Linked DNA regions of Homo sapiens. The protein of the gene in region 2 purifies or fractionates together with the protein of the main gene of each other region. This does not show direct contact. Each region holds a gene or a part of one and is shown on either strand. Other genes may lie near its edges. The genes, in order: ALDH7A1, CTSS, DNAJC10, POGLUT3, PFKL, DNAJB12 and HAGH.

The links.
Region 1: the proteins of CTSS (region 2) and ALDH7A1 fractionate together in Homo sapiens (co-fractionation; one large-scale study listed by BioGRID). This does not show direct contact.
Region 3: the proteins of CTSS (region 2) and DNAJC10 purify together in Homo sapiens (affinity purification with mass spectrometry, with the first as the bait; one large-scale study listed by BioGRID). This does not show direct contact.
Region 4: the proteins of CTSS (region 2) and POGLUT3 purify together in Homo sapiens (affinity purification with mass spectrometry, with the first as the bait; one large-scale study listed by BioGRID). This does not show direct contact.
Region 5: the proteins of CTSS (region 2) and PFKL purify together in Homo sapiens (affinity purification with mass spectrometry, with the first as the bait; one large-scale study listed by BioGRID). This does not show direct contact.
Region 6: the proteins of CTSS (region 2) and DNAJB12 purify together in Homo sapiens (affinity purification with mass spectrometry, with the first as the bait; one large-scale study listed by BioGRID). This does not show direct contact.
Region 7: the proteins of CTSS (region 2) and HAGH purify together in Homo sapiens (affinity purification with mass spectrometry, with the first as the bait; one large-scale study listed by BioGRID). This does not show direct contact.

What each region holds. Positions count from the first base shown.
Region 1 is NC_000005.10:126,553,381-126,557,764, forward strand, and holds part of ALDH7A1 (alpha-aminoadipic semialdehyde dehydrogenase isoform 1 precursor), read right to left. Parts: intron 2,636-4,384; coding exon 2,551-2,635; intron 1,014-2,550; coding exon 907-1,013; intron 19-906; exon of another isoform or gene 1-18.
Region 2 is NC_000001.11:150,744,877-150,749,260, reverse strand, and holds part of CTSS (cathepsin S isoform 1 preproprotein), read left to right. Parts: intron 1-1,381; coding exon 1,382-1,484; intron 1,485-4,384. UniProt on the Homo sapiens protein: Thiol protease. Key protease responsible for the removal of the invariant chain from MHC class II molecules and MHC class II antigen presentation. The bond-specificity of this proteinase is in part similar to the specificities of cathepsin L.
Region 3 is NC_000002.12:182,789,056-182,792,793, reverse strand, and holds part of DNAJC10 (dnaJ homolog subfamily C member 10 isoform 1 precursor), read right to left. Parts: 3' UTR 1-3,738. UniProt on the Homo sapiens protein: Endoplasmic reticulum disulfide reductase involved both in the correct folding of proteins and degradation of misfolded proteins.
Region 4 is NC_000011.10:108,487,810-108,492,193, forward strand, and holds part of POGLUT3 (protein O-glucosyltransferase 3 isoform 1 precursor), read right to left. Parts: exon of another isoform or gene 3,393-4,384; coding exon of another isoform or gene 3,359-3,392; coding exon 3,161-3,358; intron 1-3,160. UniProt on the Homo sapiens protein: Protein glucosyltransferase that catalyzes the transfer of glucose from UDP-glucose to a serine residue within the consensus sequence peptide C-X-N-T-X-G-S-F-X-C. Can also catalyze the transfer of xylose from UDP-xylose but less efficiently.
Region 5 is NC_000021.9:44,302,703-44,307,086, reverse strand, and holds part of PFKL (ATP-dependent 6-phosphofructokinase, liver type), read right to left. Parts: intron 3,530-4,384; exon of another isoform or gene 3,474-3,529; intron 2,813-3,473; exon of another isoform or gene 2,632-2,812; intron 1,915-2,631; exon of another isoform or gene 1,769-1,914; coding exon of another isoform or gene 1,670-1,768; intron 1,288-1,669; coding exon of another isoform or gene 1,152-1,287; intron 407-1,151; coding exon 333-406; intron 1-332. UniProt on the Homo sapiens protein: Catalyzes the phosphorylation of D-fructose 6-phosphate to fructose 1,6-bisphosphate by ATP, the first committing step of glycolysis.
Region 6 is NC_000010.11:72,347,807-72,352,190, reverse strand, and holds part of DNAJB12 (dnaJ homolog subfamily B member 12), read left to right. Parts: intron 1-4,384. UniProt on the Homo sapiens protein: Acts as a co-chaperone with HSPA8/Hsc70; required to promote protein folding and trafficking, prevent aggregation of client proteins, and promote unfolded proteins to endoplasmic reticulum-associated degradation (ERAD) pathway.
Region 7 is NC_000016.10:1,813,004-1,817,387, forward strand, and holds part of HAGH (hydroxyacylglutathione hydrolase, mitochondrial isoform 1 precursor), read right to left. Parts: intron 4,269-4,384; coding exon 4,165-4,268; intron 3,992-4,164; coding exon 3,890-3,991; intron 1-3,889. UniProt on the Homo sapiens protein: Thiolesterase that catalyzes the hydrolysis of S-D-lactoyl-glutathione to form glutathione and D-lactic acid.

The DNA.
Region 1 (4,384 bases), on a different chromosome or scaffold from region 2:
TATGTGCTGCCAAAGCAAGCATTGTTGTCATTCTTTAAAACGTGTATTTCTGGCTGGGCACGGTGGCTCACGCCTGTAATCCCAGCACTTTGGGAGGCCAAGGACAGTGGATCACGAAGTCAGAAGTTCCAGACCAGCCTGGCCAACATGGTGAAACCCCTTCTCTACTAAAAATACAAAAATTAGCTGGGCATGGTAATGGGTGCCTGTAATCCCAGCTACTCGGGAGGCTGAGACAGGAGAATCGCTTGAACCTGGGAGGCGAGGTTGCAGTGAGCTGAGATCACGCCACTGCACTCCAGCCTGGGCAACAGAGCAAGACGCAGGAGCCTGAGGTGGGAGGATTGCTTTAGTCCAGGAGGAAGAGGGTGCAGTGAGCTGAGATCGTGCACCACTGCACTCCAGCCTAGGTGGCAGAGCAAGACCCTGTCACAAAAACAAACAGAGCCAAGTGTGGTGGTTCATGCCTGTAATCCCAACACCTTAGGAGGCCAGGGTGGGTGGATCACTTGAGGCCAGGAGTTAGAGACCAGCCTGGCTAACATGGGAAACCCCATCTCTACCAAAAAATATAAAAATTAGCTGGGTGTGGTGACATGCACCTGTAATCCCAGCTACTCGGGAGGCTGAAGCAGGAGAATCACTTGAACCTGGGAGGCGGAGGTTGCCGTGAGCCAAGATTGCGCCACTGCACTCCATCCTGGGCACAGAGTAAGACTCTGTCTCAAAAACAGACAAACAAACAAAAACATGTGTTTCCTTGTTTTATAATAATATATATAAATAAAGACAGGAGAAGAAGGATGTCAAATGGGGTGGCTTTTCCAATATGCCCAGAGCCCTGCTTGTGTCTCAGGGAAAAGAAGGTTAAAAAGCTGTCACAATTGATCTCAGAGCATCCCTTACCTTGCCCCCATAGACCACTGTGCCACCTTCTTTCTTTGCTTCTTCCACTGCTCCAAGAAACATGCTCACTGCCTGCTTGGTGTGGAGTGGCCCATAGAGAACATTAGCTGGAGAGAGAAAAGGAAGGCTGGCTCATCATTTTGCCCTTTATGGCATCGTTTTATTATTAGAACAGCTTTCTCAATGAACAGACCAATCCCTTCCTATATGCTCTCAATTGAGAACATAAGTCAGCATCCTTTTTCCATAAAGAACCAGATGGTAAATATTTTATGCTTTGGAGGACATACGTGATCTCCATCCCAATACTCAACTCCGTAATTGTAGTGCAAAAGCAGCCATAAATGACATGCAAATGAGTGGGTATGTGCCGAGAAACTTTTTTTTACAGAAACAGGCAGAGCCAAGTCTGTTTGCCAATCTCTAGTTTAAAGGAATGGCTATCAATTACTCAAAGCACTGCACTCAAAATATAGGGTCAGTTTACTCATTACAGTGTGACCATTCTCTAAGGAAACATCACAGTCTCAGTAGTTGGTGTATAATTCAAGGGGGAAGAGAATGATGCTGTCCTATGTTACGGCTGCTGGGGACTAGAGCACTGACAGTGACCCAGCAACAAAGAAGAAGGAAGATGTAGGTAGGCCTCTATGAGGAGGAGGCATGTTAGCAGAGCCATCCCCACTCTGGGTGAAGAATGTTTCCAGCAGACAGCACAGTAGGATAGAGCCTGGCATGCCTGGAACACTGAAAGGATGTTGGAGAAGGTGGAGCTCTGGGAGCAAGAGGGAAAATAGACACAGAAAGGCTGGTGAGAAGGCAAGCGGGGCAGGAGGCAGAGAGCAGACCAGGAAGGATCGGGAGCCTGCAAAAAAGAAGAAATCAAGAGGACTCTCGGTTTTAATCTAAAAGCAGGCCTGGCGCAATGGCTCACACCTGTAATCTTAGCACTTTGGGAGGCCCAGGCAGGCAGACTGCTTGAGGTCAGGTGTTCGAGACCAGCCTGGCCAACGTGGCAAAACCCTGTCTCTACTAAAAATATGAAAATCAGTCAAGCGTGGTGGAATGCACCTGTAATCCCAGCTATTCGAGAGGCTGAGGCAGGAGAACTGCTTGAACCCAGGAGGCGGAGGCTGCAGTGAGCTGAGATCAAGCCACTGCACTCCAGCCTGAGCAACAGAGTGAAACTGTGTCTCAAAAAAAAAAAAAAAAAAAAAGAAAGGAAAAAAAATCTAAAAGCAATGAGAAGTTACTGAGGGGTATTTTAAGCAGGAGAGTGAATTATCTGATTGCATTTTAAAAATCATTCTGTAGCAATGGATGCAGAAAGGTCAGTTAGGGGATTCTTGCAGCCTTGCACAAGAGGGATGGTGTCGGCTTGGACAAGGGTAATAGTAATGAGAGAGAAGCACACTAAATCTCATTCCATCTAAACAACCTCTCCCAGTCTCACCCACTAGCACACATCAAGCAGCCAGGGTCGAAACCTAGGAGCAGACACGATACACCAAAGCCTAATAACCTGCTTCATGTGCCTTCACGCCTCTCAGGAAAGGGAAAGAAACTCCAAAACTCAGATCAGAAACACTTGTTAACAACAGCTCTCAAAAAGGGATCGCTTTGAAAGCAGAAGGAGATACTCACGGTCCCATGGGTTCCCAACTCGGATCTGTGCATAGGCCTTTTTAAGTCTGTTTACAACCTCATCATGGATGCTTTCATGTATAAACTAAACGAAAAAAGATATTCAAGGGCATAGTATGATAAATGCACACATTTTTAAACAATGAATAATTTCCTTGATAGTTACTGAAATACTGTAATCTCTAAAAATATAAGAAAATCAAAGCATGTTTATTTTTTTAATTATATAATTTATCATTTTAATATTAACTATATGAAGTCAAAATTTTCCTTTTAGGTAGATAATAGAATAAAATCATAAGCCATGTCTTTTTTTTTTTTTTTTTTTTTGAGACAGAGTCTCACTCTGTCACCCAGGCTGGAGTGCAGTGGCATGATCTCAGCTCACTGCAACCTCCACTTCCCGGGTTCAAGCGATTCTTATACCTCAGCCTCCCGAGCAGCTGGAATTACAGGCACCCACCACCACACCTGGCTAATTTTTTGTATTTTTAGTAGAGACAGGCTTTTGCCATGTTGCCTAGGCTGGTCTTGAACTCCTGACCTCAGGTGATCCACCCACCTCAGTCTCCCAAAGTGCTGGGATTACAGGTGTGAGCCACCACACCCGGTCCATAAGCCACATCTTCATCAAGTTTCCAAGGATGTATTTGTCTAAGCTTCACAAATACATTAAAGAAGGCCTCAAGTACATGTGTCCCATACTGTAACCCTAAGTCCCAGTGAACACAGAGCATAGTCATAACTGACCTCTGCTGGGTAACTACAAACACTTAACCCCAGGCCACACAGGTCTCCAGAGGAGGCCTTAATTAGGTGAGGACAACCCTTGCATTCTCTGGGTAGTTGTCAGGTCCATGCTATGCTCCAAGTGGCAGAGCTGAACTTGCCAAACCATCTATGCTCTGGGTTAGTCTCCACATGTGATGAATGAATTGACATTATGAGAACTAGTCATGAAGCAGTCCATAGTAATGGAATTTTTAAAAATATTACTGCTAACTCTAAGGAAATCTATTTGGACAATGACTAATATTACCTATTAATATTTAAAACTAATATAAAAGACGTCTATGAATATTTGCTCCAAAACACATGAAAAAAATAAAAATTGGCTGAATAGAGAAATATTTGGCTTTTATGTCATTTCATATTTTACCATGTAATGAAGGGTATAATCATTTGGAGTGCATGGTTTTTTCTTAGCTTTAACGTAATCTTTAACGCAATTTAATGTTTATGGTGAACAAATTTAATAAACTTTAAAGTTACAAATGTAGTATCAGATTATTTGAGAATGTCAGCTGTGTAAAAATAAAGATTTATTTTCATTTATGCAAAACACCTGAAAAAACAAATATGAAAAGTGTGAGAGGCCGGGTGCGGTGGCTCACACCTGTAATTTCAGCACTTTGGGAGGCCAAGGCAGGCAGATCACCTGAGGTCAGGAGTTTGAGACCAGCCTGGCCAACATGGCAAAATCCCATCTCTAATAAAAATACAAAAATTAGCCAGGCACGGTGATGGGTGCCTGTAGTGCCAGCTACTCAGGAGGCTGAGGTGGGAGAATCACTTGAACCTGGAGGTGGAGGTTACGGTGAGCTGAGATCACACCATTGCACTCCAGCCTGGCCAACAGAGAGAGACTCCATCTCAAAAAAAAAAAAGAAAGAAAGAAAAAAGAAAAGTGTAAGGTAAAGATAATTTTCATATATCTTTTAGCTTATTCTAATTAATTTAGATTATGTCAGTCTTATAAAGAATTTGTTCACACTCAATATGAATGAGAGCAAAAACCCAAAGCCAATTCCTTAATAATTCAACTGAAGGCTTT
Region 2 (4,384 bases):
TTCGGTACAAGTGGCCTAGGCTAGGTTCTGGCCTGTCTTGGCTTTCAACATGCCTTTCCCGCTAAGCTTAATCACATCTAGCTTTTGACTTAAAGTGAGAGATATGCAACTTTTCTTTTTACTTGAACACTTAGAAGCTATCATAGGGTTATCATGTGGCATAATTTCAATATCATTGTGTCTCAGGGAACAGGGAGGCCTGAGGAGAGAGATGGGGGTGTGGCCAGTCCGTGGATCAGTCAGAACACACACAACATTTGTGGGTTAAGTCTGCTATCTTATATAGGTGTGGTTTGTAGCTCACCCTCAAAATTATGAAGTAACATCAAAGATCATTGATCACAGATGACCATAACAGATATAATAATGATGAGAAAGTTTGAAATATTGTGAGAATTACCAAAATGTGGTACAAGGACACAATGTGAGCACATGCTTTTGGGAAAATGGTACCAATAGACTTGCTGAATGTAGAGTTGCCACAAACCTTCAATTTGTAAAAAATGCAATATCTAGCTGGGTGCAGTGGCTCATGCCTATAATTCCAGCGCTTTGGGAGGCCAAATCAGGAGGATGACTGGAGCCTAGGAGATTGAGGTTACAATTAGCTATGATCATACCACCTGTATTACAGCCTAGACAACAGAGCAAAACACTGTTCCTTAAAAAAAAAAAAAAGCTAATATCTGCAAAGCACAATAAAGCAAAGCACAATAAAATGAGATATGCCTGTATACACAGAGAATTAAAATAACTGATTGTATGCAAGTTTAAAAATACTTAGAAAAAAACAAAAAAGAAAAAAACTTAGAAAAAGGTGGTGTGCTTATCAAAGAAGGTTTCTGGGGGAACTATGACTGGAGTGATGCTAAGCTTGGCAAGAACACTGACAAATACAGCATTGGTGGCAAATAATTATGAGCCCTAGTTTATGCATGACAGTATATGTCCTTGACTTTTTTTTTTTTTTTTAAGATGGAGTCTTGCTCTGTTGCCAGGCTGGAGTGAGGTGGCACGATCTCAGCTCACTGCAACCTCTGCCTCCTGGGTTCAAGCAATTCTCCTGCCTCAGCCTCCTGAGTAGCTGGGACTACAGGTGCGTGCCACCATGCCCAGCTAATTTTTGTATTTTTAGTAGAGATGGGGTGTCACCATGTTGGCCAGGATGGTCTCGATCTCTTGACCTTGTGACCCGCCCGCCTTGGCCTCCCAAACTTCTGGGATTACAGGCATGAGCCACCATGCCTGGACATGTCCTTAACTTTTTAAATTAACCTTGCTATGTATCCAAAGCAGGCTAATAAAAAGTAATACCGTTTTAAAATGCCCTTTATTATCCTATAGTATTCACTCTTTTTTCCCACCCATATTTGATTCTCAGGTGTCTACTATGAACCATCCTGTACTCAGAATGTGAATCATGGTGTACTTGTGGTTGGCTATGGTGATCTTAATGGGAAAGAATACTGGCTTGTGAAAAACAGGTAATATATTTACACTTTATATTTAATTGGAATCAGGAATTTGAGGGAGTTTCAGCAAATACTCTCATGATTTTGATGATGATCATTATGATCACGATATTGACAATGATGAACTTTATAGCTTCTTACAAAGTGACATTCTAAATTACTCAGTGCCCCCATCTTTTCACTTACCATTCTGCCTTCATCACTTTGTTTTCCTGGTTTATCTTCTGTACTACTTCTGTGATTATTCCTTCTCAGCCTCTCTCATGAACCTATTCCTCTCCTCTATTTAGCCCAAAAATGTTAGTTTTCCCCAGGGCTCTATCATCTGCCCATTCCTCTTCTTATTTTATTTTTTCTTGGGTGCTATAATTCCACTCTTAGGACTCTAGCTATAACCTTTATATGCCAATAGCTTTTGAATCTCTAGCTCTAGTTCTGACATCTTCCCAGAACTTCAGACTTATCTGGACACACTCACTTACATATATCTTAGTCTTTCCAAACTCAATACATCCAAATAATTCAGTACTCTCTCCCCCATACTGTTCCTCCTTCAGAATTTCCCATATCAGTAAAGGGCCACACAACACAATCACCCAATAAGATATGATGGATTCATCTGAGACCTCCCCAAGTCCAACCAAGCAACCAATTAGTCAAACCAATTTTACCTTATCTATGTCCTTGATTCTGTTCCTTCTCTGTTTCTTCTATTACGGCTCTAGTTCAGGCATCTCTAGTGTGGACTATTGCTGTACCCTTCTAACTGGTCTCCTTTACTCTCTATTTTCTTCCCCTTTACCCTCAAATCCATCTTTCATACTGCTGCCAAACTTATTTGTCTAAAATATGAACGAGTCTGGGCTTATAACTCTTCTACTGAGTTTCATTCGGTGTAAAATTAATGTTCCCTGACAGAAGACAAATCCTATAGGCTGTGCTCCCTGCCTTGCCAGCCTCACCTCCTGGCATTTGTTGCCTCCTATTTTCACTCTGGTTATACTGCACTATCCACAGTTGTAGTTCCCATACATTCCACTTTATCTGTAATACCTTCCTTCATATCTTGGTTTGTGTTCCCTCTGCCTAGAACATCCTGTCTTCTCTTTTGGTTTACTTCTCCTTTTCTTCAGAAGTAGCTCAGGCACAATCTATTCCAGAAAAGTCTTTCCTGAATCCTTGGGCTGAGGAACATGTCTTTTTTCTATGCTGCCAAAATGTCCTATGCATACTGGATCACAGGATTTTAGGCATTATATTTAAATTGTATATTTACCTGTCTGTCACTCCAGTGTTCTGTACGTGCCTTTGGGGAGAGATTATGTCTGGTCTTCATATCCGCAGCACAGACTAAGTGGGTGGCACCTAAAGGCCCCTCAATATATGTATTGAACTGACATCTATATCACTCATAAACAAAAGGAACATAACTTCTAGAGGGAAAAAATGGAGGAAATATGAAGAGTTGAGACTTTGGGGCATACCTGGAGTTTCTCTTTGTGTTAGTTTGCTATGGCTACCATGACAAAGTGCCACGAACTGAGCAGCTTAAATGACAGAAATTTATGTCTCCCAGTTCTGGAGGCTGGAAGTCTAAGATCAAGGTGTTACTTCCTTCTCACGCTGTGAGGAAGAAAATATTCGTGGACACAGGAAAAAAAAACTGTATGATCTTACTTATATGTGGGATCTAAAAAAGTCAAACTTACAGAAACAGACAGTAGAATGATAGCTGCCAGGGACTGGAGGCTGGGTAATGAGGAGATGCTGATCAAAGAGTGTAAACTTTCAGGTATAAGATGAACAGATTCTGGGAATCAAAGGTACAGCACGGGTGGAGATGGATGTGTTATTTCATTTGATTATGTCAATCATTGCACAATGTGCACATACATCAAGTCATCACACTGTATACCTTGAGTTTATACAATCTGTCAATTAAATATGTTCTTTTAATTAAAAAAAAAAGTTTGATGCCTCTCCCCTAGCTTCTGAAAGTTTGCTGGTGATCTTTGACTTTCCTCAGCCTTTAGGACAATCACCCTGACCTCTGCCTTCATTTTCACATGACATTCTCCCTGTATGCATTTCTGTCTCTATTCATAATTTTACTTTCTTCCCCTTTTTGAGACAGGGTCTCACTCTGTCACCCAGGCTGGAGTGCAGTGGGGTGATCAATGTTCACCGCAACCTCAAACTCCTGGGCTCAAGCAATCCTCCCACATCAGCCACCAAAGTAGCTGGCACTACTGGCATGCACCACCACACCAGACCAATTTTAATTTCTATTTGTAGAGACAGGATCTCTCTATGTTTCCCAGGCTGGTCTCAAACTCCTGGGATCAAGTGATCCTCCTGCTTTGGTCTCCCAGAGCACTGGGATTACAGGTGTGAGCCACTGCGCCTGGCCAATTTTCCCTTTTCATGAGCATCATTCATGTTGGATTAGGACCCACCCTAATGACCTCATCTTAATTTAATTAATTATGTCTACATCAACCCTATCTCTAAATAAGTTCACATTCTGAGGTACTGGAGGTTAGGATTCCAACATGAATTTTGTGGGGACACAATGCAACCCATAACACCCCTTAAATCTTTACTTGAAGTACATAGTCTACAAATCAAACAAAAGGTGCTTTCCTACCCTTTTCCCACTGTGGCACACATAGAAGATGATGATATTCGTATGGCCCATGGGGAAAGTAGCTGAGGGGATCAATATCTTGGTTCACTGATAACCTATTCACAGCACTGATCAGCTTGGGTGTAGACCAGTGATAGCTTTTTAAAATGAAACTATTTCCCTCATATCTTATTGACTCTCTAAGGAACTCCCTACGGCAGGTGTTCTAAATTCCCTTCTCTACTGAAGTTGCTCTTGAAGATCATCTATATCTTTTAGTGTTGAA
Region 3 (3,738 bases), on a different chromosome or scaffold from region 2:
TGAGTGACATGGGGCTCATGTTGAGCTCATGTAACTTCCTCATAAATGATTTCTATTCAGGAAGGCCAAAGGAAAGATGACAAGGAGGATTACGATGTTCCATTAGCGGAAGAATTGAGTCTAACTTCACACACTTCTCTTGCAGATAAACTGGTTTGAGGTTATAGGCCTCTAATTTATCAAGAAAGAAACTGGCATGCATTTAGATGGACTGCTTAAGCCAATAGGTCTGTAATCTGTGGGGAGCAAAGAGGTGTTCTTTCAAACAATGAGAGGTTAAACAATACATTTATCAGATGGGACTTTTGTGAACATTGAGGGACAAAACAGGAAGCTGAAAAGGAAACCAATCAATTCTACCAGGGTTTATAACAGCTGTAATGAAAAGCCTTGGGGAAGGAAAGAAATTGGAATATATCCTCTTCATTATTTTTTGTACCTCAAAATGTTATCCTGTTCCACAACCCTCAAAACCCCTCACAAAGATAACCAACTACTGTAATCCTCATTTAATAAACATAGACTTCAGATAGTGCATTTAATTCTAATGAAACTTGTGCAAGATTATAGCATGGAGATAAAAAAATAATTGTTCACTGATGGTATGCAAGCATTTGTGAGGATTACTTATAAATTGACTTGAGCATCTCTTTTTTCTTTAATTTACTCTTTGAACATGTATTGAGTGTCAAGATGATGGCATGAAAAGTGAACAAGATTGTGTCCTGGCTTTGAAAGTTCATGCACTCTAGGACAGGGAAACATACTAATCAACAGGACTGAACTTATAAGGTGTTTCAGGATCCAATTCTCTGATTCTCTAGATTATTGCATTGTTTAGAGTTAAATTTAAAATGTGTATCTTCAATATGTTGTAAAATGCAAAACATAACTTTTAAACGCTTTAAACATCCATTGTTGAAATGTAAGATGCAATTTAGATTTTTTAGTATCTATTTCCATATTGCAATTAATTAAACGATAACTGCAAATCTTATCATGTATTAGAAACATGTGACTGAAATGACTAAACTCCTGTTTTTGAGGTGTCTTATCCACATTAGAGTGTTATAAAATGTTGTATACAGTTTGTATGCCCAAATACTGGATTTATTAAACAGAAAATAAATGAGAGGTAGAATAAAGTAGTCATTGTTGGAGCCAGGTTTCACTTGTCAAGAAAGAGTTCACAGAGGCCAGTTTGAAGAATATCTTGAAACTCATTAAACTGAAAAAGTTTTGACCAATATTTTGCTAACAACTATATAATCATTATGGACAGAGCTACTTTCCCCAGCATAGTTTCAGAAACACACGTTGACTTCTAGCTGGGCTGAAGTTTTAAAGTTTAAGATGTTTATATACTTTTAAAATTTCATTTTAGAGTAACCCATTTTATACTAATTTGGCCAGAATAGTATTCAAAAATATTGTGTATAAATGGCCACCTGAATACATATCTCTCTTAATTTTTAACTTTTGAGGCTGGGTGAGTTTCTATGTTAAGGTTTATTCACACCAAGGCATACTAGTTTTTGTTGCCAACTAGTTATGATTCAGGAGGACTGAAAACTAAGCTCTAGAGTTACTTTAATTGGAGAATTACTGCTTGGATTTAAATTTTATGGCTTGATCTCATAATGAATGAATTGCCCTACTTCTGAGGGAACACATTTCATGCAGGGTCGATCTCTGTGGGGGTATTTATCCACTAAATTTATGTAGTGAATATTTTATCCCAAATGAAGAAATTAAAAAAATATTTACTTGAAAATAAGTCATAACATTTAAATATCAAAATAGTGAACAAAGAGAGAAGGAGCATAGACAGTTGAACAGGAGGGTAAAAGAGAATATGGTTACTTGGAAGAAATAAGAGAATAAAGCAAAGGAAAAGTCAGAAAATAAGTCAGCTTAGTAGGCAATGTAACTGATAAGTAAGGTTATTTGATTTTAGTGTTAGAAGGCATAATTATTACTATTGTAATTTTTTTTTTTTTTTTTGAGATAGAGTTTCACTCTTGTTGCCCAGGCTGGAGTACAGTGACGTGACCTCAGCTCACTGTAACCTCTGCCTCCCGGGTTCAAGCGATTTTCCTGTCTCAGACTCCCAAGTAGCTGGGATTACAGGCGTGCACCACCACGCCTGGCCATTTTTTTTTGTATTTTTAGTAGAGACGGCGTTTCACCATGTTGGCCAGGCTGGTCTTGAACTCTTAACCTCAAGGGATCCACCCGCCTCGGCCTCCCAAAGCGCTGGGATTTCAGGTGTGAGCCACTGTGCCTGGCCCTTACTATTGAATTTTAGAAAAGGGAAAAGGTGCTTCATTAGATATTCGCTTTTACATCTGACATTTTATATAGCAGGTTTAAACACATTTAAGTATTGTTCAGTTCTGTAAGACCAAGGTATTAGATTTGCAGTTTTCTCAAGTTTCACATGCAGAAAGTCATGTAAACTAAACGAATAAGCTAGAAGCATTTAGCACCCAAAGTACTTCAGCAAATCTTGAAGTTTATAAGTATAAAATAAATTTCTTCTGCTCTTGAAGACCTAACAATCTAGTTTGGAAGATAACATATGGAATAATCAGAGAATAATATAGGACTAAATAAAGCTTTTTCTTATAAACAAATACTTAGTTTTGTGGTAGACAATGAGGAACTTTTAGAAATTCAGAAATCAATGTGAAGTAAAGAAGTCAGCAAAGGCTTTACAGTGGAAGTTGGATTTGGGATTTAAGTTAGATTTTGGGTTTACAGGATGAGGTGAAGGATGAAAAGGGCATCCAAATGGGAAAGTAATACAAAGCATGGTATGAGAATGTAAAATAACCAACTTCCCACAAAGTACTTTGATATGGAAAAAGTAATAATTTAAAGACTCTAAAAGTACAAATCAAAACTCCAATGGGATATGAACGCACACTCATTGGGATACCTACTATTTAAAAAAAATGAGTGTTGGTGAGGATGTGGAAAAATCAGAACTCTTGTGCACTATTGGTGGGAATGTAAAATGGTGCAGCTGCTATGAAAAACAGTATGGAGGTCCCCCCATATTAAAAATAGAATTACTATGATATAGACTTACACTTCTAGGTATATAGCTGAAAGAACTGAAAGCAGGGTTTCTGATATTTGTACACCCATGTTTATAGCAGCATTATTTGCAATGGCCAAAGGGTGAAGGCAGCCTATCAACGGACGAATAACAAAATGTAGAATGTATATATAATTGAATATTATTCAGCCTTAAAAAGGAAGAAAATTGGCTGGGTGCGGTGGCTCACGCCTGTAATCCCAGCACTTTGGGAGACCAAGGCAGGCGGATCACCTGAGGTCAAGAGTTCGAGACCAGCCTGGCCAACACACTAAAACCTTGTCTCCGTTAAACATACAAAAATTAGCCAGCGTGGTGGCACATGCCTGCAGTCCCAGCTACTTGGGAGGGTGAGGCAGGAGAATCGCTTGAACCTGGGAGGTGGAGGTTGCAGTGAGCTGAGATCACACCACTGCACTCCAGCCAGGGGGACAGAGTAAGACTCCGTCTCAAAACAAGAAAATTATGACACATGCTACAACATGGGTGAGTCTCGAGGACTTACGCTAAGTAAAATAAGGAATCACAAAAAGATAAATGGTGTATGATTTCACTTACATTAAATATCTATGGTAGTCATATTGATAGAAAGTAGGGTGGTGGTTGTCAGGGTCTAGCAGCATTGGTAAATAAAA
Region 4 (4,384 bases), on a different chromosome or scaffold from region 2:
CCATGTTGGCCAGGCTGGTCTCAAACTTCTGACCTCAGGTGATCCACCTGCCTCGGCCTCCCAAAGTGCTGGGATTACAGGCGTGAGCCACCATGCCTGGCCATAAGTTTGACTCTTTTCATTGACAACAAGTAACAGGGACTGATGTACCACCCCACCTGAAACAACCAGAAAACACTCCCACAAAACATATGAAACAATAGTTTTTTGTTGTTTTTGTTGTTGTTTTTTTGAGATGGAGTCTCACTGTGTTGCCTAGGCTGGAGTGCAGTGGTGTGATCTCAGCTCACTGCAACCTCCGCCTCCTGGGTTCAAGTGATTCTCCTGCCTCAGCCTCCTGAATAGCTAGGATTACAGGCACTCACCACCACGCCCAACTAATTTTTTGTATTTTTAGTAGAGACGGAGTTTTGCCATATTGGCCAGGTTGGTCTCGAACTCCTGACCTCAAGTGATCCACCTGCTTCGGTCTCCCAAAGTGCTGGGATTACAGGCGTGAGTCACCGCACCTGGCCTTAAACAATAGTTTTTAAGGCACTAGGTATTAGGCAATGAAGGACAGTGAGTCTGAGAGATGGGGAACAAATAAGGTAAGCCCTACAATTCCTACAGCCTACTGCTTAAGGGAGCTTTGAGGTTGTAGTACAGGGAGGGGGACTGTAGGCAAAGCCAGGCAGCCTCACTGAGTTGAGGAGACAGAGCTGGCAGTCCAGGGAGACCAAGGCAGCTCTAGACTTTGTAGGACAGAGTATCTAAAAAGGAAGCACTGCACAGAGAGAACGTTAGAGATCTATAGAAGGTCCTCTTCACATATTGAGCAGAGCATATGATCAGTGCATTTTGGATGGGTTCTTCCCCTGTATTGATTCTAAAAATAATACAGTTTAATTATTTAGGTATAACATTTAAATATTTAGAATGATAATGACAAAGGATGAAAACAGATTTCAGGCTGAGAAATGGACATCTAAGATATTTGCCACCTGAGTGTTCATATGTTCTTGGGGAAGACAGGGGAAGAACCCATCCAAAATGACCAGAGAGAACAGTACTTATCGGTGGGTACCAGCCAGATTGGAAAGCCTCCTAATTCACAGGGCTTGGGTAAAGTATGCAGAAGGGTATTACCTCAGTAGCGGGGAATAATTAGCCCTAGACTACACATGGCTCTAGTCCCACCTAACAAACTGTAAAAGCAAAACTTGGAAGGATTAAACTATTTCCCAGTGATTTAACTGCACCCCAGAAAAGAGCTCAAGAAGATGAAAAAGCATCAAGAGGTGAAAACTACACTGTATAGGATTGACAACAGATCGTACATTGCAGAAGAAAAGAGAACTTAGAGACAGTAATAGAAACTATACGAAATGAAACAAAGAGAAAAAAGAATTTAAAAAATGAAAAGGGTATCGATGAACCACAGGATAGTTTCAAGCCCAATATATGGGTAATTAGTATCCTTGAAGGTAAGGTGGAATGGAACAGAAAACATATTTGAAGCAATAATGGCCATAATTTTTCTAAATTTGATGAAATTTAAATCACTTGGATGGTTTAAATTCCAAGAAGTTCCACAAATCCAAAACACAGGAAACATTAAGGAAACTGCACCAAGGCACATAATAATCAAACTTCTCAAAAGAACTGATAAAGAGAAAACCTTAAAAGCAACACAGATGAACAAAGATAAGGAAAATGCTAGATTTATTGTTAGAAGCAATGCAAGTGAGAAGACAGTGGAACCACATCTTTAAAGTATCAAAAGAAAAAAAACCCATCAACCTATAACTATAACTAGAGACAATGTCTTTTAAAAACAAAGGCAAACTAGGCCGGGCATGGTGGCTCATGCCTGTAATCCCAGCACTTTGGGGAGCCGAGGCAGGGGGATCACTTGAGTGCAGGAGTTTGAGATTAGCCTAGGTAACATAAAAAGACCCTGTAGAAACAAAAAAATGTTTTGTAGAAACAAAAAAATATTTTTTAATTAGCTGGGCATGGTGGTATGTGCCTGCAGTCCTAGCTACTTGAGAGGCTGAGGCGGGAGGTTTGCTTTAAACTAGCAGTTTTTGTTTCTGTTTTATTTCGTTTTGAGACAGGGGGTCTCACTCTGTCCCCCAGGCCAGAGTGCAGTGGCACGATCACAGCTTACCGCAGCCTCGATCTCCCTGAGCTCAGGTGATCCTCTTACCTCAGCCCCCTGAGTAGCTGGGACTACAGGTATGTGCCGCCACACCCAGCTAATTTTTTGTAGAGATGGGTTTTTGCCATGTTGCTCAGCGTGGTCTTGAATTCCTGGGCTCAAGTGATCCTCTGGCCTTGGCCTCCCAAAGTGCTGGGATTATAGGTGTGAGCCACTGCACATGGCCTAGCCCAGCAGTTTAAGGTTGCAGTGAGCTTTTTTTTGAGATGGAATCTCGCTCTGTCACCCAGGCTGGAGTGCAGTGATGTGATCTTGGCTCACTGCAACCTCCACCTCCCGGGTTCAAGCGATTCTCCAGCCTCAGCCTCCCGAGTAGCTGGGACTTCAGGCATGCGCCGCCACCATGCCTGGCTAATTTTTGTATTTTTAGTAGAGACGGGGTTTCACCATGTTGCCCAGGCTGGTCTTGAATGCCTAAGCTCAAGCCATCCACTCGCCTCAGCCTCCCAAATTGTTGGGATTACAGATGTGAGCCACCACGCCCAGCCTGCAGTGAGCTTTGACTGTGCCACTGTACTCCAGCCTGGGCCATAGAGCAAGACCCTGTCTCAAAGTAAACAAAAAACAAATCAAACAAACAAAAGGCAAAATAAAGTTTTTTCAGACATTCAAAAGCTGGAAGAATTCATCACCAGCATTCTCACAGTAAAATAAATATTAATAAAAATCCTTTAAGCAGAAGGCAAATGTTACTAGATGGAAATATGGATCTACACAAAGGAATGAAGAGTTTCGCAAATAGTAACTACATGGATGTAAATACACAAGATTTTTTTCTTATCATTTAAATCTCTTTACTTAATTTTCTTTCCCTTAAAATTTAAATTGAGCTCCAGGAGGTATGTATACAATGTTTACTTTACTGCACATGACTTTGAGGTCATCAGGTTTAGGCCATTCTGAAAGGCATGGGACCTACACACAAGGCTGACTCTGGAGTATATAATAATCACTTACCTTTCAAAATATAGGGAGACTGAGCCACATGTTCATCACCATAAAGGACCTCTATCTTCAGGCCTTCATCGACAGTTTCATACATCCTATATCTCATCAAAAATGTTCCATCATTCCTGTCCAAAGGTTTAGGGACATGTATCCGGACCAACTCTTTAGGTGAAAGAGATTTGACTACGACTTTGAATGGTGTTTCACCTAAAAGGAAAAGAAATATAAACAACTCTACCATGTCATGATAATGATTTACAATTATTGGATAGGTGTTATTGGATAACTTAAATATGTTGCTTTTTCCTGCAGCATTGGTGGTTAAAAAAAAATCATTTCCTTTGGAAGATCTTTGAGGCCAGGAACTGTCATGTCTGGTTCATGCATTCTTTTTTTTTTTTTTTTCTTTTTTGAGACAGGGTCTTGCTCTGTCATCCAGCTAGGAGTGCAGAGGCAGAATCCTAGCTCATTACAGCTCCAACCTCCTGGGCTCATGAACCTCCTGCCTCAACCTGCATCAGCCCCATGAGTAGCTGGGACTATAGGAGTGTGCCACCATGCCCAGCTAATTTTTGAAATTTTTTGTAGAGATGGTGGGGGGCGGGATGGGTTGGAGGGGGTCTTGCTGTGTTGCCCAGGCTGATCTCAAACTCCTGACTTCAAGCGATCCCCACTGCCTCAGCCTCCCAAAGTGTTGGGATTACAGGCTTGAGCCACAGAGCTTGGTCTGGTTCATGTATTCAAACCACGGATCAGACTCAACATTTGAATCATTAGTCATTCAATAAAGATTTACTGCATGAACAAAAGCAAATCATTTTTTAAAAGCAAATAAAAAATAAACTTTTTGCTTATTTGGTCTTTCCTCCTTTGGGTAGGATTAAAGCCCAAATAGTTAAAAATCCATGGACTCTAAGCATGACAGATCTCTCTAGTAATCGAACTTCCTCCTTATAAAACACACACAAGCTTTCTTTGTATACCATTTCAGTATCTAATAACCTTCATTTCTGTGAAAATTTCCCCGTTTATTAAGCCCAAATTTCAAGTGGTACTTCTAAGGCCATTTCCTTACGTAGAGAGAGATTACAGCTAGTTACCAGACTCTTGTACAAGCTCACACACACACACACACACACAAACACACACATACACATCTTTGTAAATACTAGAGATTACTTCTGAGTCTGTTTCCTCAGCTTGAAATGAAACAGTTACACTGTAATAATCCAT
Region 5 (4,384 bases), on a different chromosome or scaffold from region 2:
AGGGGTGTGGTGGGTGGGGCCTGGCCCGTCAGCGATCACTGTAGGCAGGGCCTCGACTCCTTGTCCACCCAGCTCCTTCCCTGCCCCCAGGCCCGTGCTCTGCAGCCTCTGAGCCTCCAGCCGGGCTGAGTCCCAAGGCAGTAGGTCTTCTTTCTGCAGATGCCTTTGGCCTGGCCCCAAGCTCCCCCTCACACTCCCCAAGACCACATACCCATCAGCTCCTCCAGGCCAGGACCACCCCGTCTCCCAGTGTGACCCACACAGAACACACCTCGGCATGCGCCTCAGGAGGTCCCCACTCCCTGCACACACACAGCCCACCTTGGCCTTACCTCGTAGATGAGGAAGACTTTGGCACCCACATAAATGCCCATGCGCGTCACAGCCCGGACAGCAGCGTTCATGCCTGTGGAGGTCAGGGCAAACCTGTCAGTCCCACGCTGAGAAGCAAGGCCCTGGACACCCTCCCCATCTCAGAGGACAGGGGGTAGGGGAGGCCTGGACACCCTGTCCATCTCAGAGGGCGGGTGGTGGGGGAAGGCCCTGGTCACCCTCCTCATCTCAAGAGGGCAAGGGTCAGGGAAGGCCCGGACGCCCTCCCCATCTCAGAGGGCAGGGGGTAGGGAAGGCCTGGTCACCCTCCCCATCTCAGGAGGCACCAGGCCAGGAAACTTGAGGACCAGCCCTGGGCCCCCGGGTGGAGGCTCGGGTGAACCCAGCAGGCTCTAGGCTTCAGCTTCCGAGCACCTGGAGTATGGTGCCCAGAGATAAACTGGGAACATCCCATGCAGAGCATGGCAATCAGGCATGTGTGGGTGTCCCGAACTCCACACCCCGCCGCCCCAACCTCTGCCACGGAGCCCCCACACTCACAGGCCACGGGGCCAGGCCTTGACCACAGAGCAGGATAAAAAGTGGGGCAGGTGGAAAAGAGGCCGGCACCTCCCACACCGGCCCCACCCCAGACATTCAGGCTGCGGCGTGGGGATGGAGAAGCCGGGGAGCACCTCTGGGCACTGAGGAAAGCACCTGCTGGAAGGGGCTTGGGCTCCTTCCTCCGCAATGAGATGGGGGACTGAGAACAGAGCCCCTCCGGCCTCAGCCACCCAGGGAACAGCACTGCCCTGCCCCAGGGCCTCAGGGACCCTCACCCCCCAGCCTGGACATGATGCTGGTGCCACCAGGCTCTGAGGTCACTTCCTCTTTCCTGTCCCCTTGCCCTCGGCTCCCAGGACTGCAGTGAAAGAAACAGTCTGTCCCAGCGGGGGCCTTGGCAAAGCCAGTTTCCTGGAGAGGGACATTAACGGGGGAGGCGGCACTCAGGAAACGCTGGTGCTAATGTACCCCACACCTTCTTCCCGAGAGCCCCCATCTCAAAAGATATCCATGACTTCATACAAAAGGGGCAGCCAAGACCACCTAATCTTCAGAGAGGAGGAAACCCACGCCAGCGGCCAGGGTCCCCTTCTGAGTGAGGTCTGGGGCCGTGTAACAGGCCTGAGTTTGTGCTTGCCCCTGGGACCAGCCCTGCTCTTCCTGCCTCCCTCCCAGCACCCATACCATGCCATCCATCCCTAAGCCATGCGGGTCCTCTGTCCCCAAGCCTCGTGCCCCTCAAAAGCCCCTGCCCTCCCACCCCCCTGTACTTGCAGAGGCTGGAGGTGCTGACCTGCTGGGGGCTCCTGCTCAAGCCTCGGCAGCTCCCTTGAACATGGAGACCCCCACGAGAGGACTCTCGACCTCTACCCTGGTTACACATGCTTCTCATCCGCTCTCCAGCTTGGCGTGGGGCTCAGCAGCAGGGAGCAGGTGTGAGGTGAGGTGCCACGCCTTGAGAAACCCCAGGGATCGGCACACTGTTCTCACGTAGCAGCCAGAGTATCTGCCACCATCCCCACACTACAGGAATCCAATGAGATCCCAGAGGGAGGGTGAGGGACCTTCCAGAGCCCAGCAGGTGGCAGCAGAGCCAGGACTCACCCAGACCCACCCTCAGGTTCAGTAGGTGGCCCTCTCCCCACCCAGCAGCCAGGGGATCCAACAGGGGGGCCAGAGCCAAGCCCGGCAGCCATCCAGAAGAAGGGGCACAGACGTTAGAATGGGCAGAGCACAGAGCGTGCAGGGAGCTGGAGCTGCCCACACTGGCAGCTTCTCCACTTGAGCAAGCAACGCCGTCTCTAAAGGAACAGTGCCTCCCTCACATCCCCACATAGATGGGAGCACGGCTGCTACAGCTGAAACTGGGGCGGGAACCCAGCAAGCATCCCACACACACCCAGAAAGCCAAGCCCCCCAGACAGACAGACAAGCTCCCCCAGAAAGACAGCCGAGCCCCCCAGACAGCCGAGCCCCCCGCAGACAGCCAAGCCCCCCGAGACAGACAGCCGAGCCCCCCCCAGACAGCTGAGCCACCCCAAGCACCCGACAACCAAAAACAGTCAGCAGAGCCAAGTCCTGCTGCCTGAGGCTGGGCGTCCAAGGTGGTGCTGTGAGTGCAGCGCCCTGTCCCCCACCCTCACTGGAGTTGGGGGCAGTGAGGGAGATCCACTCAGCCACAGCTGGCCGAAGCTAAGCCTCCGTCCCTCCCTCGCCCTCCCTGCAGACCTGGTCCCACCACAGGTCCAAGCCCACCTCTGGCAGGCAGCAGCTGAGGCAGGGCAAGGAGAGGGCAGGAGCAGCGCACCCAGGCCACCGTCCAACCACAGGGCCTCTCTGGTCTCCCCAGCTCCAGGCGGAGTCAATGTGCCACTGGGCGGGTCAGCCCAGGGTCACAGCCATCTCAGCAGGGGGCCTGGTGGGCTTGTCAGGGGACCTGGGAACGGCAAAGGGGCCCCAGGATCAGGGGTCAGCAAGGGTACCCCTCACTTCCAAATGTCTTCAGGGTGCTCTGCAAAATAAAACCTGCTTTGACGCCCGGAGACAATGAAGCTGCCAAAACCCAGCTTTGTGCTGAGCCCTTGGGAGGAGAACAAAGTGGCCATGTCACATGGCCACTTTGTTGTTGGGACTGGATTTTAGAACGGGACTGGAAAGGGACACGTTCTGGATTTTAGAACGGGACTGGCTGCGGCCTGAAGGAGGAAATTTTCTCTGTTAACCTCATTGGAAGCTGTAATCTTCAAAAGACCTTTTTAATGGCCCTTTAATCGGCTTTTCTTTCTCAAAATAAACCTCGGGCAGCAGTCGCCGACACCGCAGTCAGAGGGCAGGCAGGACAGTGGGCCTGCCGCTGCCTACCAGCAGGTGATAGCCACCCCTGCCCAGGAAAAAAGGCTGGAACAAAATCAATGTCTGAGGTTGGTGCGCTGGTTCCCAGTGACCTTTCCTCACCATTAGCTCCCAGGCAAGAAAGCAGTGAGCATGAAATGGTCACAAAGTTTAATGATCAGCTAAGGATGTAAGCATGAGCCTGAAGGCTCCAAACAGGAGGCCATGTCAGGGAGGCGTGGCGGGCCAGGAAGCTAAGTCCTCACCTGCGATAACAGGAAACCAACGTCCAAACACACCAGCCAGGGAAAGGCAGGGCACGGTGTCCTGCAGGGGCAGGGAGGGGGCACTAGACAAAGGGCCCAGAGAATTAAAAGTGCCCAGGCCAGGGCGAGATGAAGGTAGGCATAGGCAGGCCGGGCCATTTTTTTTTTTTTTTTTTTTTTGGTCAAGTCTGTTTTTTTTTTTTGAGACAGAGTCTCGTTCTGTCACCCAGGCTGGAGTGCAGTGGCGGGATCTTGGCTCACTGCAACCTCTGCCTCCCCGGTTCAAGCGATTCTCCTGCCTCTGCCTCCCGAGTAGCTGGGACTACAGGCATGTACCACCACGCCTGGCTGATTTTTGGGGTTTTTTCTTGTTTGTTTTTTGCAACAGAGTCTCGCTCTGTCGCCCAGGCTAGAGTGCCGTGGCTCGATCTCGGCTCACTGCAACCTGCACCTCCTGGTTCAAGCGATTCTCCTGCCTCAGCCTCCTGAGTAGCTGGGATTACAGATGCGCACCACCATGCCCAGCTAATTTTTTGTATTTTTAGTAGAGACGAGGTTTCACCATGTTAGCCAGGATGGTCTTGAACTCCTAACCTCAGGTGATCCACCAGCCTCAGCCTCCCAAAGTGCTGGAATTACAGGCGTGAGCCACCGCGCCCGGCCTGTTTCAAGTCTTCTAGCTACCTTTGCACAGGTTATTGTGCAAATAGATATCCTTGAACAACGCCCTCCCCTGCTCAACAGCACCAACCCCTGGCCAACAGGAAAGGCGTGACCCAGAGCCACACAGGACAGGACTTGTGGGCTGGCTGGAAGGAACTTGCAAGGTGGCCTGTCTTGTCCCCAACCCCCTTTCACAGAAGGGGAAATCAAGGCCCGAGAAGTCCCAGGACTGGGCAACACTGGCAGGA
Region 6 (4,384 bases), on a different chromosome or scaffold from region 2:
CATTGAGGTTTTTGATAGCAGGAATAAAGTACGGGCACTGTTGTTAAAAGAGAACAGCATGAAAGGTTAATGAGAGGGAAGAGAGCTTCAGGGCAGGAAGCCAATAGGAGAGAATTGCCTTGAGCTGGTTGGATATTCTGAGGGCCTGGGACAAGGCAGTCATGGATAAGGCTAAGGTCCCTGGAAAAGAGGCACCAGGCCTGTGTGAGAGAGAGGTGCAGAGGAGAATCAGATGGGATGCTGGGGAATCAGAATTGAAGCCCCTGTGACCAGGAAGAAACCAGGCTGAAGAACTGAGATGGGAAGAGATGAGCAGAGTGGGAGGTGCCAGTGGGATAGTCCAAAGGAGCTGTCAGCCTGGAACTCAGGAGAGCGCTCCAGGTTACAGGTGAAAGTGTGGTATCGTCTGTTCCCTGGAGCTCACTGGAGTTGTGCATGGCTGAGGTCACTGTGGGAAAGTATAGACCATGGAGAGAAAGTTGCTGCAGGCACAATGGCAGGCAACACCTGCCCTGAGCCCACAGGCAAAGGCAGAGGAAGCAACAGATTGAGATGGAGCAACAGGAAAAGGCAGTCCCCGGAGAGGGCAGCGGCCAGGTAGCCATGGAGAGGTAATGGCAGCAGGTGGTGAGCAGCCCTGTGTGATGCCGCAGGCACTGCATGGGAAAAGGACAAGTTAAGAGTTGAAAAGGGAAGGATCGAGAGCATGGGCAGAGGATGGTCTTGGAGAGGTGGAAGGGCAGAGAGGGGAGAGTCACGAGAGAGGGGAGGCTCAGAGCAACCTTGAAAGGATGAGGGACCTCACACTGTTGGCCTTTGCAGCAAAAAGGGATGTGAGGGGGCTTGAAACTCCTGCTGCAGGAGGTGGGACAAGGAGGCACTGAGTTAAACTGCAAAGCAGTAGCTGGGCCCTAAGCTGGGAGGTCACAGACTAGAGATGGTGGAGCCAGTCAGTCCCTTTCTGGGAGTTTCTGTCCAGTAGCTGGCAGCCTGGTAAGCCATTGGCTTTGACTCAGGCTTTGTAACAAATGTGGAAGGTGCCAGATTTCCCAGGGAGCTCACGAGAGCATTTGTAGGCCTCAGTTTCCCCAGCATACAAAGAGAGGATTGGCTGGGATGATCCTGAGGTTCCTTGCAGCTCAGGCTATCCAATGTTCTGTGAAATGGTTGACTCTGGGCTAAGTCATGAAGGCCAAGCTGGGAAGGCCAGCCCACAGGAAAAGGAGACGGATTGCTGAGGGATTCTGCATTCAGAGTCCAGGAGTGAGAGATGTTCTGGTGCTGGCGAGGTCCGGGGTGGGGTTGTACCCTTCAAGTCAGTCAACCTTCATGAGCCCCACTGTGCACTTAGCCCCCTTCCATTCACTGTATTTCACAGAATCTTATTTACCCCTCAGAGCACTCCTATGAGAGCAGAGATCGTCTCTCCACTCAGGAACCAGCTAACCTGGCAAGGCCACATGGCTAGCCAGCAAAGACCCAGAGCTGTCCATCTCCAATCCCAGGCCCTTTTCTGACTCACTGTGAGCACCGTAGGTACACAGAGCCCAGAAACTCAGCTACTCACTTACTAACAAAGTCACGGTCAGAGACAACACTGTATATTTGCTGGGCATTGGGCTGAGTTTTTTGCTGGCATTCACTCATTTCCTCTTTTAGCCTGTATGATGGAGATAGAGTTTTGCACAGATGAGCTAAGTTACCTTGTCCAAGATGACCCTTCTAGCAAATGGCAGAGCTAGGTTTGAACCCATCGGGCAGTCTTTTTTTTTTTTTTTTTTTTTTTTTTTTTGAGACAGGGTCTCACTCTGTTGCCCAGGCTGGAGTGCAGTGGCACAATCACAGCTCACTGCAGCCTCAACCACCCAGGCCCAAGTGATCCTCCCACCTTAGCCTACCAAACAGCCGGGACCACAGGCATGTGCCACCACACCTGGCTAATTTTTTTATTTTCGTAGAGACAGGGTCTTCCTGTGTTGCCAAGGCTGGTCTCGAACTCCTGAGCTCAATCCATTCTCCTGCCTTGGCCTCCTAAAGTGCTGAGATGACAGGTGTGAGCCACTGCCCGGCCAAATCTAACTCTAGTCTGGGTTCAGTGGCTTTGGCCATAGAAATCCTCTCAGCTCTACCTCAGGTGCCTCTCCACCGCAGCTCTGTTCTCTTCTATCGAATTCCCTTCCTTTTCTAAGTCTGCCAGCTTTACTGAGAAGGTAACATTAAGCTGTTCTGTCTCTTTTTGTGACATTGCCTGTCAGCCTCTGTGCCATGAGGGATGTAAGCATGAAGCTGTCACATCCCCCAGGCCAGAAGAGAGACCCTACTTGCCAGCAACTGGAAATCTTTAATTTCCAACTCAAGCAGAAAGCTTCTATGTGACCCAGGGCACCCCCATTCTCCTTTGGGCTCTCTTTCTGTACTGTAGGGAAATTAGAGTGGCTGATTCCCTGTAACTGCCCTGAAAAGCTTCCAGAATCTTCTCTGAGAGGTACAAGAGAGAGCCTGTCCCATCTCCTGGCTAGTGCTCCTGCTCATCTCTGGTAGTTGAATAACTGGTTATTTTGCCCTTAGGATCTGCCAGGCTCAGCCTGGGCCACCAGAACTTCCAGAGGAACTGAAATAATAAAGAGCTTCTTGAAAAGCTCTAGGAAACAGCATACTGCCTCCTCCTCCTGCCCCGCCTTGACCAATATCTCTTCATCTTTCGGTTTCTCTTGCCATCCCCTTGGTAGCTGGCATGGACCTGGTATCTGGGATGGCCTGAAATCTCATGGTTACTACTGGTTCCAGAGTCTGCTGAGCGCTGAGTCTTTGCCTTCCTGAGCCTTGGAGCTCCCCCGCTACCCAGCCCTCCTCCTCCCCAGCCCCCACCACAGGTTCCCTCACTTCCCTGGCCAGCCCACTTCTGTGGCCAGACACTTCATCAGCCTTGAACCTTCACTCTCTGTCAGACTCGGCACAGGTGCTTACACACATTATCCCATTTCATCCTCCGCCACCGTGACGAAACCAGGGTTCAGAGAGATTTCATAGATCAGCCAGGGTCACACTGCTAGGAATGGCAGAGCTGAGATTTGAATCTGGGCCTTTCTGAATTTGATGTCTCTTCTATGCTTTTGCTTGCATCCCTGTCCCCGATCCCCACCCCATCAGACACGTGCAGCCCAGGATAGCAGCGTAGTTAAGAGCATGGACCCTGGAGCTGGACATCCTGGGGTTCGAAGGCCCCTCTGCCTCCTAACCAGCTGTGTGGTCATGGCAGCAGTCTGCCACAGTACCCTCTTCCTACAGTGGGGTGGGGTAGGTAATGAGACCTTCCTTCTAAGGCTGCTGTGACAATTAAATGAGCTAATGCAGATCACTGTGAAAGTACCCACCTGACACACATCACTGGGTAAGAAAAATGATTGTTGCTATTGTTCCTCCCCAAGCACCCTCTCAGGGTTTGCTACAGGAGCCCGCCTCCCTTACTCAGAGCAACCCCAGCTGTGAGCTCCTGTGTTTGGATTTCCCAGTTGAAGACTCAGCAAGATCACACAAGCTCGGAGTGCGGCAGCAGTGGCCCAGGGCACAGTGCTCCACTGGAGCCCCATACTCTGTTCCCAGTGAGACTGGCTCTCAGCCTGTTGGGTCAGACCTCAGTGGGTCGCACTGGTGGGTGTGGCACCCAGCATGGCGTCTTCAGGCCAGCAGGCACCTGGCGTGTTTGAAGGAATGTGCTGGGATGTGCTGCTGTCCTTCCTTAGCACAGAGGGATGCTGGGTCCCTGCAGTGATCCAGATGCCTGTTTTCCCAGCTGGTCAGCTTGTCAGAGGCTTTAGGATTTTACTACCCAGGGCGCTGGGGCCCAGGCCTGACTGAGGTTTCGTGCCTGGAATAAATGGACACAGGGACCTGCTGCCAGAGACTTGGGCCCTTCCTCATTTAATCTGCAGGAACCACAGGCTTGTTTTTGCTTGCTTTTGTTTTTTTGAGATGGAGTCTTGCTCTGTTGCCCAGGCTGGAGTGCAGTGGCACAATCTCAGTTCACTGCAACCTCTGCCTCCCGGGTTCAAGCGATTCTGTGCCTCAGCCTCCCGAGTAGCTGGGATTACAGGCGCCTGCCACCACGCCGGCTAATTTTTGTATTTTTAGTAGAGACGGGGTTTCACCATGCTGGCCAGGCTGGTCTCAAACTCCTGACCTCAGGCGATCTGCCCGCCTCAGCCTCCCAGAGTGCTGGGATTACAGGTGTGAGCCACCATGCCTGGTGGGCTTGGTTGTTTTTGTTTTTGTTTTTCTGAGACAGAGTCTCATTCTATTGCCCAGGCTGGAGTGCAATGGCATGATTTCGGCTCATTGCAACCTCCGCCTCCCAGATTCAAGCCATCCTGCTGCCTCAGCCTCC
Region 7 (4,384 bases), on a different chromosome or scaffold from region 2:
ACACACCTCCCGTCCAGCCCGGCCACTCCCTTCTCCTGGGTGTTCACACGGGGCTGCGGCTGGGATGTCCATCCCTCCAAACGCATGCTCAAATCTGATCCCCAATTAATGGAGGTGTTTGGATCATGGGGGGAATCCTTTGTGAACGGCTTGGTGCCCTGCTCCAAGTGCGAGTTTTTGCTGTTAGTTCCCACAGGATCTGGTTGTTTAAAAGAAACTTTTGCCTCCCCCACTCTCTCCTTCCTCTGGCCACATGCTTCACACCCACCAGCTCCTTTCGCCTTCTGCCATGAGCAGAAGCAGCCTGAGGCCTCACCAGGTGCAGACGCCCAGGCCATGCTGCTTATATAGCCTGCATAACCATGAGCCACATAAACCTCCTTTTATAAGTCACCCGGCCTCAAGTATTCCTTTATAGCAACACCACACAGACTAAGACACCCAGGAAGTTAATACGCATCCACTGTATTTATAACTAGTATCAACAAATAATCATGACCAGAAGTGCTTAGGGATCCATTTAGTAACACGTGCAAGACCTTGAACACGCAAATTTCAAAACACTGCTGAGAAAAGCTAAAGACATTCATAGATGGAAAGCTCACAGAAACACTCAATGTTAAGATCGCAATTCTCGCCACATCAGTTATCACAACAGTCCCAATCAGCAGCCAGGCTAGCTTTTCTGATAGAAGTTCACGAGATGATTCTGAAAACGGAAATGTAAAAGGCTTAAAACAACTAAAACCATTTTGAAAAAGAACACTGGAGGATTCACACATACCAGTGCCAAGACTCAGCACAGAGTTACAGTCATCAAGGTGCTGTCCTCGGACACCGTGGCAAGTCATAGAGACCAACGAAACAGAGCAGAGACCAGAAGCAGACTCGGGCATAGAGGGCCCATTCTTTTCAGAAAGGTGCCAAGGCAATCCAGGGAGGAAAGGACAGTCCTTCGACAGACAGCCCTGAACACCTCGGGATCACACTGCGAGAGGGTGAACCTCTACCCTCACCTCGCACCACACACAAACACCATCTTGAAAGGGAACACTGTAAATTGTTTGTAAATATAAAAGCTAAGACTTTAAAACTTCTAGGAAGAAACACAGGAGAAAGTCTTTGTGAGCTAAGGGTATGCAAAGATATCTTAGAAAGGGCACAAGAAACATAAAAGAAAAATTGAGTAGGCCGGGCGCAGTGGCTCACATCTGTAATCCCAGCACTTTTGGAGCCCAAGGTGGGCAGATCACCTGAGGTCAGGAGTTCGAGTCCAGCCTGATCAACATGGAGAAACCCCATCTCTACTAAAAATACAAAATTAACCGGGTGTGGTGGTGCATGCCTGTAATCCCAGCTACTCGGGAGGCTGAGGCAGGAGAATCGCTTAAACCCAGGAGGTGGATGTTGCGGTGAGCTGAGATCGCGCCGCTGCACTCCAGCCTGGGCAACAAGAGTGAAACTCCGTCTCAAAAAAAAAAAAAAGAAACAAACAAAAAATAAGTAAATGGAACTTCACCAAAACTATAAACTATTTTCCAAAAGACAATGTTAAGAAAATGAAAAGGCAAGCCATGAGCTGGGAGAGAAAAACATCTTTTAAATATATATCTCAGCTGGGCGTGGTGGGTCACGCCTGTAATCCCAGCACTTTGGGAGGCCGAGGCGGGTGGATCACGAGGTCAGGAGATCGAGACCTTCCTGGATAACACGGTGAAACCCATCTCTACTAAAAATACAAAAAATTAGCTGGGCGTGGTGACGGGCACCTGTAGTCCCAGCTACTTGGGAGGCTGAGGCAGGAGAATGGCTTGAACCCGGGAGGCAGAGCTTGCAGTGAGATGAGATCACACCACTGCACTCCAGCCTGGGCGACAGAGCAAGACTTTGTCTCAAAAAACAAACAAATAAATATATATATGTATATACACACACACACACACACACACACACATATATATATATATCTCACAAAGACTTGTTTCCAGATGATATAAGGAACTCTTACAAGAGCAGCCCAACAGGCCAAACCCAATATTTAAAATGGACAAAAGATTGAACATAAACTTCATGAGAAGGCATCCAAAGGCCGACACACATGAAAAGATGGTCACATGGGGAAATCCACATTTTAAAGGCAGTGAGACGCCACCACAGGCAAGTTAGAATGGCAAAAATTGGAGAGACCGACAACACCAAGCAGTGCTGGCACAGCATGGAGGCCCCGGAACTCAAGCATTGGTGGGGGACTGTAGAACAGTACAACCATTTTTGGAAAACGGTTCACACCTTTAACCACACAACACAGCAATTCCACTCTTAGGTAGTATCCAAGAGCAATAAAAACATGTTCACAAAAGACTTGTACACAAATGTCCATAGCAGCTTTATTCAAATAGCAAAAAACTGGAAACAGACAAATGCATAAACAAATTGTAGCATTTCCACACAATGGGCTACTCAGAAGCAAAGAGCGTGGCTGACCCTCACCAACATCAGCGGGGCCGAGAATGCCACAGAGATGACGGAGCAATGAGATTCTGTTCATGGGAAACTAGAAAGTGACCTGAGGTCACAGCAGAGCAACAGCTGGCGGGGACGCCACATGGGAGGGACACAGGAGCCTTTGGGGTAGTGGTAAGTTCCACATCTGGACTGTGGAGGGGATTACACAAGTGCAAACATCATCAACATTCCTCAAACTGCAATCTGTCCACTCAAGACAGACACACGGGCCAGGTGACGTGGCTCACGCCTGTAATCTCAGCACTTTGGGAGGCCAAGGCAGGCGGATTACCTGAAGTCAGGAGTTCAAGACGAGCCTGGCCAACATGGCAAAACCCTATCTCTACTAAAAGTAGAAAAATTAGCTGGGCGTGTTGGCTGGCGCCTGTAATCCCAGCTACTCAAGAGGCTGAGGCAGGGAGAATTTTTTTTTTTTTTTTTTTTTTTTTTTGAGACGGAGTCTCGCTCTGTCACCAGGCTGGAGCGCAGTGGAGCGATCTTGGCTCACTGCAACCTCTGCCTCCTGGGTTCAAGCGATTCTCCTGCCTCAGCCTCCTGAGTAGTTGGGATTACAAGCGTGAGCCACCACGCCCGGCCAGCAGGGAGAATTTCTTGAACCCGGGAGGTGCTGGTTGCAGTGAGCCGAGATTACGCCACTGTACTCCAGCCTGGGCGACAGAGGGAGACTCCGTCTCAAAAAAAAATTAAAAAAAAAAAAAAGATGAGTATTTATGATTCATCTGATTTAGAGTTGGAATTTGCATGAGTAAATACTGTAAAATAATGTTAACCTCTACTCTAAGAAATTGAAAAAGATGCTCAAAAAACCGGGTGATTTATTTAAAACAACCCTGTCAGAGGCAGCGACTCTCACTCCACTCAGCAGAGGGAGCCCACGCCTGAGACCACCCAGGCGTGCGTGCTTGTGACACCGTTTCCAGTGAATTCGGGGAAACACACCCCTGGAGAACCCCGTCCTGCTCCTGGCAGACTTTGGCCCAGCTGGCCTGGGCTACGCCATGGAGGCTCACGTGGGGCCACCGTGGAGATAAGAGTCCTTTGGACACAGAGCCACGTTCTGTGGCCTGGAGAGCCAGCAGAGCCACGTGCTGCCAGCCTGACCCTACTGCTCAGAATGTGGGAACAGGCTGGGCGCTTTTTACACACGCAGCGTCTGAGGCCTACTCCAGACCCTCCGAGGCAGAGGGATCTCCATAGAACCCCTGGGTTTGCCGTGCAGGGCGAGCTGGGCCACACTGGCCTGAATCCCAGGCCTGCTCTCTGGGCTCAGAGTGTGAGTGTCTACCCACTCTGGCGACCCCGCTGTGCACAGCGGCCCTGAGCAGCCCACAGGAAGGCACTGCGCAGTGACGGCCCCACTCACCTTGGCCCAGGCCAGCTTCTCCCGGATGGCGGCATTGCCGGGCTCCACGTGGCGTGCAAACTTGAGGTTGTTGATGGTGTACTCGTGGCCACAGTAGACTCTCTGAGGAGAGAGGTGACAGGTGAGCTCGGAAGGCTGTTACCACCTGTGAAAGTCCTCAGGGACGGGACCTGGATGCCCCCGGGGGGTGTCCGGTGAGAGGGTGCCAGGAGGGAGAGCAGCCCCGCCCTGGTTAAGGCCCCCCACACCCCGGCCCGCAGGGAGGCGCTGCCTACTGTGTCCGGGGGGAGCCGGCCCAAGACCTCCAGCAGAGCTTTACACATCTCATCCGCAGTCCCTTCATAGAACTTCCCGCAGCCAGCCACAAACAAGGTGTCACCTGGAAACAAGGACAGCCACGAGGTGGGGGCCACTTGAGGCTGGTGGCTAGGACTCAGGAGGGGGCCAGGAGCAGGGTGACACTCACCGGCAAGGCCCAGGCCCCGAACCCTGGCT